3 separate regions of the Homo sapiens genome follow, and all the other regions are reported to be linked to region 3. The links are microRNA targets in miRTarBase. Many come from high-throughput screens and were not tested one by one. Region 3 holds a microRNA gene; each other region holds the end of a gene's coding sequence.
What was found. The annotated mature microRNA hsa-miR-4280 reads GAGUGUAGUUCUGAGCAGAGC and lies in region 3 at 1,026-1,046, opposite strand. An mRNA with a match to its seed (bases 2 to 7 or 8) in the 3' UTR can be bound and repressed. Matches are read on the target gene's strand: a 7mer-m8 pairs with bases 2 to 8, a 7mer-A1 pairs with bases 2 to 7 and ends in A, and an 8mer does both.

Region 1: the mRNA of UNKL is a reported target of hsa-miR-4280. The part of its 3' UTR that is shown has no 7-base or 8-base seed match.
Region 2: miRTarBase lists USP37 as a target of hsa-miR-4280. Seed matches in the 3' UTR shown: 7mer-A1 at 2,204-2,210.

What each region holds. Positions count from the first base shown.
Region 1 is chr16:1,363,639-1,366,875 of GRCh38, forward strand. It overlaps UNKL (unk like zinc finger), which reads right to left. Exons shown (of 15, transcript NM_001372107.1): 15 at 1-2,757. The coding sequence ends at 2,602. It overlaps GNPTG (N-acetylglucosamine-1-phosphate transferase subunit gamma), which reads left to right. Exons shown (of 11, transcript NM_032520.5): 11 at 1-475. Among named protein-coding and RNA genes, the nearest start is that of GNPTG, 13 kb to the left of the region's middle.
Region 2 is chr2:218,452,163-218,455,417 of GRCh38, forward strand. It overlaps USP37 (ubiquitin specific peptidase 37), which reads right to left. Exons shown (of 26, transcript NM_020935.3): 26 at 1-2,855. The coding sequence ends at 2,768. It overlaps VIL1 (villin 1), which reads left to right. Exons shown (of 20, transcript NM_007127.3): 20 at 1-1,133. Among named protein-coding and RNA genes, the nearest start is that of VIL1, 35 kb to the left of the region's middle.
Region 3 is chr5:87,113,899-87,117,153 of GRCh38, forward strand. It overlaps MIR4280 (microRNA 4280), which reads right to left and starts at 1,056; the gene lies at 981-1,056. The region is part of intron 1 of MIR4280HG (MIR4280 host gene); the gene reads right to left.

The DNA.
Region 1 (3,237 bases), not on the chromosome of region 3:
CCACGGGGCACCTTCCAGCCACTGCTGTGCCTCAGCCACCTAGGAGCCATCCCTGAGGCCATGGCCACCAAGACAGGTGAGGGAGGCCCCAGGGCACACAGCCCCAGGATCTTGCCCCCATTTCCAACCCTGGCAGCGCTGCCAGCCATTCTTTGGTCTTCCCACTGCTCACCTGTCCTCAGAGCCAGTACTGATCTAGGGGAGCAGGTGCCACCTCCATCTCCCAGCTGTCCCCCCACCCCTGGGGCTCCCCAGCTCTACCACCCCGGAAGCTGAGCCCTGGAGACACCCTGAGGGGCGGGCGCCACCTCCTTCCCAGAAAGAGCAGAGCAGCTGGCAGACTAGAGCTCAGCTGCTCCTGACCACTGACAACCGGGAGATGTCTCGGCAGACACCACTTATCCCAGAAAAGACCAGAGGCTCCAAATGGGAACCAAGTGCATAAATACAAATAAAAACAGAGTTTACACATCGATGACAGTAGCACAAAATATACGTAATTTCTAGATACTGAGCTAATAAATCACTGTAGTTAAAAACAAAATAGATTCACTGAAACCAAGTCGATAGTTACCTTGGAGTAGTGGACTAGCTGCAGAATGTCACGGACCCACTTCCTTTAAAACAACAGAATGTTGCTATCAGTTTGTCTTACGTTAAAACAGTTCTTAAACCACCTACTATATTAAATACATTCTAATTTGGTCACTGATGATAAAGATTTTTACCTAGACGTTTTGCACTTAAAAAATGCTATTAAAAGTCTTTGGCAAAGCCACGGTCGGGGAGAAACACGTCGGTGCCGCTTCCCACTCGTGTGCCCTCACCACCCACGTGGCCCGCGGAGAGCCAGGTCGCCGTAAACCACAGATGCCTGTTCCTGCTCAACTCCTAGGGACAGTCCCAGCCCTGAGCAGAAGGGTCAGGTCATCGCGGGGATGCGTTCTCAGTCACGTTTCTGCTGCGGCCGAAACCACACTGTCGCTCCAGGGGCAGACGGGACAGGGGACCACAGCAGAGCCGGGACCTGGGGGGGGTCGCTTCCCCCGTGTGCTCCAGGCCACTGAGAGGCTGTGGCCGGGTCCTCTCCTGTGACCTCACTGGCCACATGGATGAGCTCCGATGATAACTGGCAGCGCGGGTCAGGTGACTGCCACATACACCCGGCACCCCGGACCCTGGCGCACACACGGCCCGAGCATCTCCCACACGAGCAGGACCAGGGTGGTCACGGGTGCTGGGGAGGCAACCACTCTCCCAGTTCACTGCCTGACCCCTGCCAGGACGCCCAGCGACATCTCCAAGGAGCTACAAAGCACCATTGCCTAGGACAGCTCTGAGTAATCAGAAAACAGCTTTTTTTTTTTTTTTTTGAGCCAGAGTCTCGCTCTGTCACCCGGGCTGGAGTGCGGTGGCGCGATCTCGGCTCACTGCAACCTCTGCCTCCCAGGTTCAAGCGATTCTCCTGCCTCAGCCTCCCGAGTAGCTGGGACTACAGGTGCCCGCTCTCACGCCAGGCCAATTTTTGTATTTTTACTAAGACGGGGTTGCACCATGTTGGCCAGGCTGGTCTTGAACTCCTGACCTTAGGTGATCCACCCGCCTCCCAAAGTGCTGGGATCACAGGCATGAGCCACCGCACCCAGCCAGAAGACAGCTGCTTAAAAAAGTAATTCTAAAAGCTCTGACGTCGGATCCCCTCTGCTGCGTTTTTTGTTAGTATCAAACTGTCTTTCAGAGGGTTAAGGGAGAAAACAAAACCCATGATGCTCCTTCACTTGCTCTCCGAGGCGCAGGCGCACAGAAACAGCGGCCACGGACCACAGAAATGCAGGACGGAGCTCTCCTGCTCCCACGCCACGAGGCTGGAACATCAGCCCCAGTGCCTGGTGCACACACAGGCTCAGGAAAACTAGCTCCTTCCATCAAGTTAAAAACATCTCAATCCATAATCACTCTGCTTATAAATACTATTTGCACTTAATTGGAAAATGTAAAAATCCTAGGTCTTACTACTAGATAAACACTCATTTCATAAGTACTAGTTTCAGAATATGAAATCTAATATATTTAGCATACTATGAATTGACAATAAACTGATATGAAATATTTAAGTTCACAGTACACATATAAAGCTTCATATTATCGCATATTAAAAAAAAACAGAAAGCAGCTTAGAGCAATTTATAACCTCTAACTAAATTCCTCGGTTTACAAAGTGCTTTGAAAGACCCCAGCTCCCAGTGGCCTAGTCACAGTAGTGTCAGGACCACAAACTGCTGTGATCACAGCGCCGCGTGGATCCCGGAGGCACCAGGCCCCTCAGGGACAGGCAGGCGGGTTCTGTGGGTTTGCATTTAAGGTTTTTGAGGAAAATACCTTGAAACCGTCGGTAGGACTAGATAGGTGACAACGTGTGACAGGAAAGGCTGTCAGGCCAAGCGCAGGCGGGGCTCCCAGCCTCATGATAACGTGTAACAGGAAGGGCTCCCAGCCTCGGTCCTCACGTCGGTGGCACCAGAAGCGAGTGACGACATGTCCGTGGTCAGGAGGAGCGCTGGAGCCAGGGTGCCCAGCAGGAGGTGGCTGTCCCCGCTGAGGTCACCACTGCAGGGGCTGGCCCTTGCAGTAGGGGCACTCAGGTGCGGTGGCCGCACACGGCTCACAGAGGATGTGGTGCTGACAGGGCCGCAGGACAGCACCGTGGGCCCGCTCCCGGCAGGCCACACACTGCTTGGCGCGGAGCTGGAAGATCACCTGCAGGGCCAGAACAATGACGGGCTCAGGAGGCCCCTGCCCAGGCTGGGCCAGCTGGGGAGCCGGAGGGCCTTCCGGGCAGGACTCAGCATCTCAGGCCGCCCGGCCACCAGCTACAGAGACAGGGTCAGGGAGACGCCCCAGCCAGGGCCACCTCAGGGAGAAGGCAGCTGCGGGGTCAGGGGGTATGCTCTGTCTTAAGAGCCCTGGGCAGAGGACAGCCTCCTGGGGCCACCACAGACACGGCAGTGGCCAGACAGGCCAGGCCCCTGAGGGCAGCTGGGTGCCCAGGATGTGGGCTACGCAGGACCCTCTGTCCTATAGCAGCGAGTCCAAGAGCCCACCCTTAGCAGGCGAGGTGAGGAGGGGCACGCCGAAGTGGAGGGGTCATGTGTGAGGGTCACAGCTGTGAACAGGGAGGGATGGGGCCACGGGGAGCAGTGTGGCATTCGCTGACAAGAGGGAGGGGTGAAAGGGCAA
Region 2 (3,255 bases), not on the chromosome of region 3:
GAACTAATTGCCATCAAGTTCCAATTCAATGTCATTTAAAGTAATGTAACCACACATTTGGTATTTTCAATAGGAAGGTTAATTAGGTATTGTGCAAACTGCCTGCAACGGAAGCACTCAGTCCTTATCTAACTTGTCCCTTCCTGGCCCCAACATGCTAACTGCCCCATCCCCAATTCTGGGCAAACTGATCACAATGTGCAAAAAATAATATATTATCTATTTATAATTTTAAAATATATACAGCCAGCTCAAAAACAACAACAAACCCCATCAACATAGTCCAGCTGAAATCTCCACTGGTAGTCAAAGAAGTAGATTAAAGGAGTAAAGGAAGGAGAAGGCTGATAGGGCCACAAGAATGGACAGACATCAAGTAAAATTTGAGTCCCAAACATGCAAGTACATGAGCAGTGAGATAACTTATATATTCCAATAACCTATTTTCAACAACTCCTGCCCAAGACATGAAGATCAAATCAGGTTTCTGAGGTAAGTGTACTTCTAAACCATACACACATGAAAGCTATGAAAGCAATTCAAATGAGGCTGCTTCATGAGGCAATCTAGACTTATGGCATTATTTCTACTTTTCTCCATGTTTTAATTGCAGCCTGCACTTTAAATCTTTCCCAATAATTTTTAACAGTGCCTCTCAAATGCAAAGACACGTAAAAGAATTAATAACTAGCCAAAGAATTTTATCACCGCTTCACTCATTTATAAGAAAACCAATTATTTCCAAGCAAAATCAAACCAAACCAAAGAGGCTCCTGGTAGAAATGAAACAAAACTTTAAAGCTAGTTTTAAAACAAATATTTTCCTCTGCTCTAAACTACTCTGGCGTTTTCTACCACTCTACCATTTTGGAACATTCATTACAATAAGGTATATAGGTAGATGGTAGGAGGCAAAGCATTTATCAGTAGTTGAGCAAAACTGCTGAGGCCATTTATAATTCAAAGAATGAAAACTTAGAATAGTTTACTACATTAGAATACATCCAAGTTCCAAGAGTAGGACTGGAGCTCTCTTAAGGCAATCTTTCAGAAAAGATGTTGCATCTTCTGTGATGATGGTTTGTGTTTTTTTTGTTTTTGTTTTCGTTTTTTTTAATGAGATGGAGTCTCACTCTGTCACTCAGACTGCAGTGCAATGATGCGATCTCAGCTCACTGCAACCTCTGCCTCCTGGGTTCAAGTGATTCTCTCATGTGATGGTGGGTTTTTAAATGTTTTTTCCTTCTGAAAACCTGATGTGGTTTTGTCCCTACCTCTGAGAACTAAAGAATAATCCCCTTGTTTATAATAAAAGAAAAAACACGAAAGAATATAATGATGGTTTCATTTTTCTATATTTAACTCTGTGTGATCCTAATGATATCTGGGCTCACAAAATTATTTTGTGGACAGAATTCCATCCTCAAAAGAATTCTTTATATGGTTTCATAAGCTGCTTAACCAAGCTGGTTACGTCAGCTAAGTGACTAGCATAGCACTTAATGTTGCCGCTCTACTTTGCCTCAACTCAGAGCACCTAAAAAGTAGATAAATAAATTATGCACCTTTGTTATTTGTTAGTTTTTGGGATTACCTAAGCCAATCACATTTTAATTGCAACCCTATTTTAAGGGCAAAGCCAGACAGTAAATGGTTAAATGCCCAAGGTTTGTCCTACAGCTCAAGTACTTAATTTCATACTTGCAATAGGGCTTTTAGCTTCAGTGGTCCAGAATTTTAGCTTTACCAGAAGAACACTCTTCTTATCCTCCCTATGTTTGAGAGACAGAGATGCTAGCATTCTTCCTTATCCCTAAGTATTCCTGCTGGGGAGTCCCAATTGGAGAAATATTATCTTTCTACTTGTTTAAAGTTTTGGTTGCAATCCATTAGGGTAATGCTGCTCCATGGCAGAATGACAAAAAAGAAAAAAGATTCTATCTTTACCACCATAATAATGATGATGATATATGATGAACATACTGTGTGAAGAAATCTCCTTAGAGAAAACAAAGTATATAAGAAATATCAAATGTGGGACTGTAACATATTCCAAAGCACCAACAATCCATTTCTTGGGACTGCATGTAAACAGCAAAGACATCACAAATTCATGAAATTTGCAGACAACAACAACAACAAAACAGCTCCTCAAGTCAGGTGACAGTAATGCCCCTCTCTTGCAAAGAGAACAAACTGTCATTAGTGTAACATGAAGAGCTGGCTTTCCAGTGAATTTTACTAATAAGGAAACACAAAAGGTTACAGACTTGAGTGAAACTACTCAAGGAACATAAAAGCTAAAAGCCAACTGATAAGTATGTCTTCACACATTTCTCAGGTGAATGGACTCTTTGACACCTTCATTTCTTCTCCAAACTGCTGTGCTATTAATTTTGAGCAGGCATATTCTGGTGGCTCATCCTAACTCTTTAAGGCTCCATTCATCCCGTGTGTGTGTGTGTGTGTCTGTGTGTGTGTATACACACATACACAGATATATATTTACAACATGTATTCCTAAGACAAAAGAAGTGCCACTCATAGGAGAAAAAGAGGATAATCAGCTACGGATGTGAGACCAAAGTTTCCATAAAATAGCATGGAGCATTCTACGTTACTCCAATTTTTGTCTTTTGGTTTGGCCCTGAGCTGTTTGTTGCTCCCGCATCAAGTAGAATTCCAAATTCTCCTTCAGCAGAGGAAAGGTGAGGTGGGCAGCAGTAACAAATATGCAGTGCATGCTGCCAACCCAGGAGTTTGTTCCTCACAAGGCCTGACGGGTAGTCTTCCCCACTTCCGTGCTAAGTGACTGAGAGTTCTTTTCTGTTTCCAGCAGCTCATCAAAGATCTCCCTTAAGATAAAACAAGCAAAAAATAAAACTGGAAATTTAGTAAGCAGAACCAAAGAATAGGCAGGAGAAAAAGTAAAATAAAATTGATATGGATAAGGCCTTCACAATTCCATTTCATGCCTGTATTTTATTTAAAAAGCAGCTCACTCATTTGATCTTAACCCTTTGAATGCTGATTTTTAAGAATAGAGGGGAACTGACAACAGTTAGCTTTAATGAACATGCTAGGTAATTCCCATCCATATAAATCAGATCTTCTAGCTGATAAAACTGGATGACCAAAACTATTTATGACAGGACATCTTCTATCATAAAACAAACTGTCTTAACTTCCATACCTAGATACAACTGTGTAATGAGCAATTAATGCTGAGTTATGAGAGAAAATATTCTGGACTTA
Region 3 (3,255 bases):
CCTTCAAGTTTAGTACAGTAGTCCCCCCTTATCTGTGGTTTCAGTTTCCATGGTTTCAGTTACCTGTGGTCAACCACAGTCCGAAAATATTAAACGGAAAATTCCAGAAATAAATGATTCCCAAGTTTTAAATTGTGTGCCATTCTGAGTAGCATGATTAAATCCTGTGCCATCCCACTCTGTCTCACCCGGGATGTGAATCATCCTTTCTCCAGTGTATCCATGCTGTATATACTACTTGCCCCTTAGTCACTTAGTAGCCATCTTTGTTATCAAATCAACTATCACACTATTGCAGTGCCTGTGTTCAAGTAACCCTTATTTTACTTAATAGTGGCCCCAACCCACAAGAGTAGTGATGCTGGCATATTGTTATAATTGTTCTATTATATTACTAGTTATTGTTAATCTCTTACTCTGACTAATTATAAATTAAACTTTATCATGGGGTATGTGTGTATAGGAAAAAATCATAGTATATAGAGGGTTTGATACTATCCTCAGTTTTAGACATTTACTGGGGGTCTTGGAACATATCCCTTCTTGGATAAGGAGGGAATACTGTATTGGATTGTCTTTGACTTCTCTACTGAAAGAAGGTCTTCTTCCCCACCCTTTGAACCCAAGTAATTCCTACTTAAGACTGAACAAAAATGAAACTCAAAGGAATACAGAGTCAATACCAAATATTTTATGAGCAAAAGATGGGTGCAGGCTATGGAAGAATAGACTTGGGGCTACATATTAAAAGCTGCTAATCATTCTAAAGACAGACCCTGAAAATCTGTCAACAAGGAAGCTGAAAAGCTGTCATCCTGGGAGGTATCCAAAATTGGAATGAGGAAATTCACACAGGTATCCGGAGACAAGAACCAGGGTTCAGACCTAGGGCAACTCGGCACATTCTGCCAAACCCTTCCTCCTCACCCAGCACTGTTTCCGTCGGTCACCAGCATGTTCCACTGCTTTCACTCCATAGCATCACAAAGGTGTCATTCAGTCTTGAACATACCTCATCCTTTAAGGCTCTGCTCAGAACTACACTCCACCCTGATTCCTTACCTTAAGTTCCTAATGATCTTTCTATTTTGACTTCCTGTGTCATTTTCAGGTCTGTTCTGCACAATGGAAATGAGTGTATAACCATTTGTGCTGCTAAATAAACGTGGAACACAACAGTTAATAAAAAGAGATTGAAAGACAGCCTTAGAAAATCTAAGGTGAAGCTGGGCAGAAAATAAAGGTCAGGCGTGTGAGTGGGCCAGGCCCAGTGATAGCTCAGTTGCAGGTAATGCCAAAGTTAAGCCTGGAACTAATGAAGCCTTCTACAAAAGAAATACTTTTAAAATACTGATGCTAAATGCTAAGGTCAAAGCAACAGTTCAGAACCAACAACTTAGACAAGGCCAAGAAGGCAGGAAAGTACTGAATATTTGAGCAGCAACAGAATGGGGATCCAGAGAAATTCCAAGAAGTCAACTTTCAGATTTGTGTAAAGGATAAATGACACTGTGTATCTAAAGTAATTCTCCCATTCCTTTACTTCGGCAGCCTCACTCTTTCCCATCTCCCCCCAGAATCTTCGCTTTTGACCTCTCCCAAGGAACCTTTCTTATCTGAGTCCTATTTAATGTAAGCCATATCCTAGTAGAGGCCACTGAACATCCCATGGCCTTCTTATATCCACAATGGGGCAGTAACCCCCTGGAGGCAGAGATATTTTTATTCTTCTGCTCCTTATTCACAAACCTAATCTAGAAAAAACGAATGTAGAAAAGCAAGGGATTTTTGCTGTTTTAAAGTCAGGTTATTTTTTAAGTAGTTAGTTAGTTGGTTTGTTTGTTTTTTGAGACAGGGTCTCACTCTGTCCTCCAGGCTGCAGTGCAGTGGTGTGATCATGGCTCACTGCAGCCTTGACTTCCTGGCTCAGGTGATCCTCCTACCTCAGCCTCCACAGTAGCTGGGACTACAGGCACACACCACCATGCCTAGCTTTTATGCAGTATTAAGGTATTATTGGACACATTATTTATAAAGGAATGAATATCTCCATTATTTTCAGCTCAGTCCTTCCTATGCTTTGATTTGTCTAGTTGCCTTTATTGTGCTTCATAGATGCCTGTCCTAGCATGACCCCCTGCAGAGTTATCACACAACTGTTTTTGAATAATTAAAAAAACTGTAAACATTTGTTTCACATATTCCACACTTATCCCCCACCTGCAGCCACTAGTTGGCATTTCGTTCTCCTTTGAAATAGAAATTTTTGGTCCACAGAGGCTTATCAGAGTGAAACACACTTTCTTTGCTAGTGCATTCAGAGAGCGAGATCAGCAGTAACTCGCCTGTTATTTTTTTTTTTTTTAGAAATTTTATGGCACTGCTCTAAAACCCAATAAAACTATTAATGGTCATACAAAAGTAAAACATTTAATTTTAAATTTTGATTACCTTTTAGTGAATTATAAATACAAAGTGTTCAACCACAAATAACACACATTACAAATAAAACAAGTAAGTAAATTAAAATTGTAAACAAATAAATGGATAAAACCCAAAAGTCAGTCAATGCTAGAGGAATAGGAGAAAACAAACTGTGTTAAGCTTTGTGGAGCTCTGCTCTAGTTCTGCTCCTGCTTGCTACAGATATTCTCTTAATGGTCCCCTGAAACTCTTTATTTTAATAATCGAACACCAAAAGTTGTTTAGCAGCATGTGTGGCCACAAATCTAAGAAAGTACATTCCATGCAGCTAGGTATGGCGAGTTTCAGCCCTTGATATATGACTGTAAGTAGTGTGTGACAAATCTTTGGACTTCAATCTTTGGTGACACTCTCTATTCCCCTTACCCCATTCCTATGGGTTGGAACATGATCATGGTACTAGTGACCATGTAGACAAGGACAACTGATGCAACTGACATTAAGGAGAAGAACTCGTCTATTACTGTGTCTGTAGCAAAAGAGATACATAAATATTAATCTTATTTAAGTCATTGTACTAAAAGGTTCCCATTGTTTCAGCAACTTAGCTTTTACCCTAAACAAAACATCCACCAATATTTATCCAGGACTCATAAAAAAATTATCTCCTTCTGCCTTATCTTAGCTCCAACCCAACTGTCTGAAAGTGTCCAAACACTCCTCCCTACTGGCGATGGAAAACTAGCTCTGGCTATATTAACTGGGGTGAGAAAACCAATATAGTTCTCCCTGTATCTAAGCTTAAGTTCCCAAGACAACTAGAGGCCATCA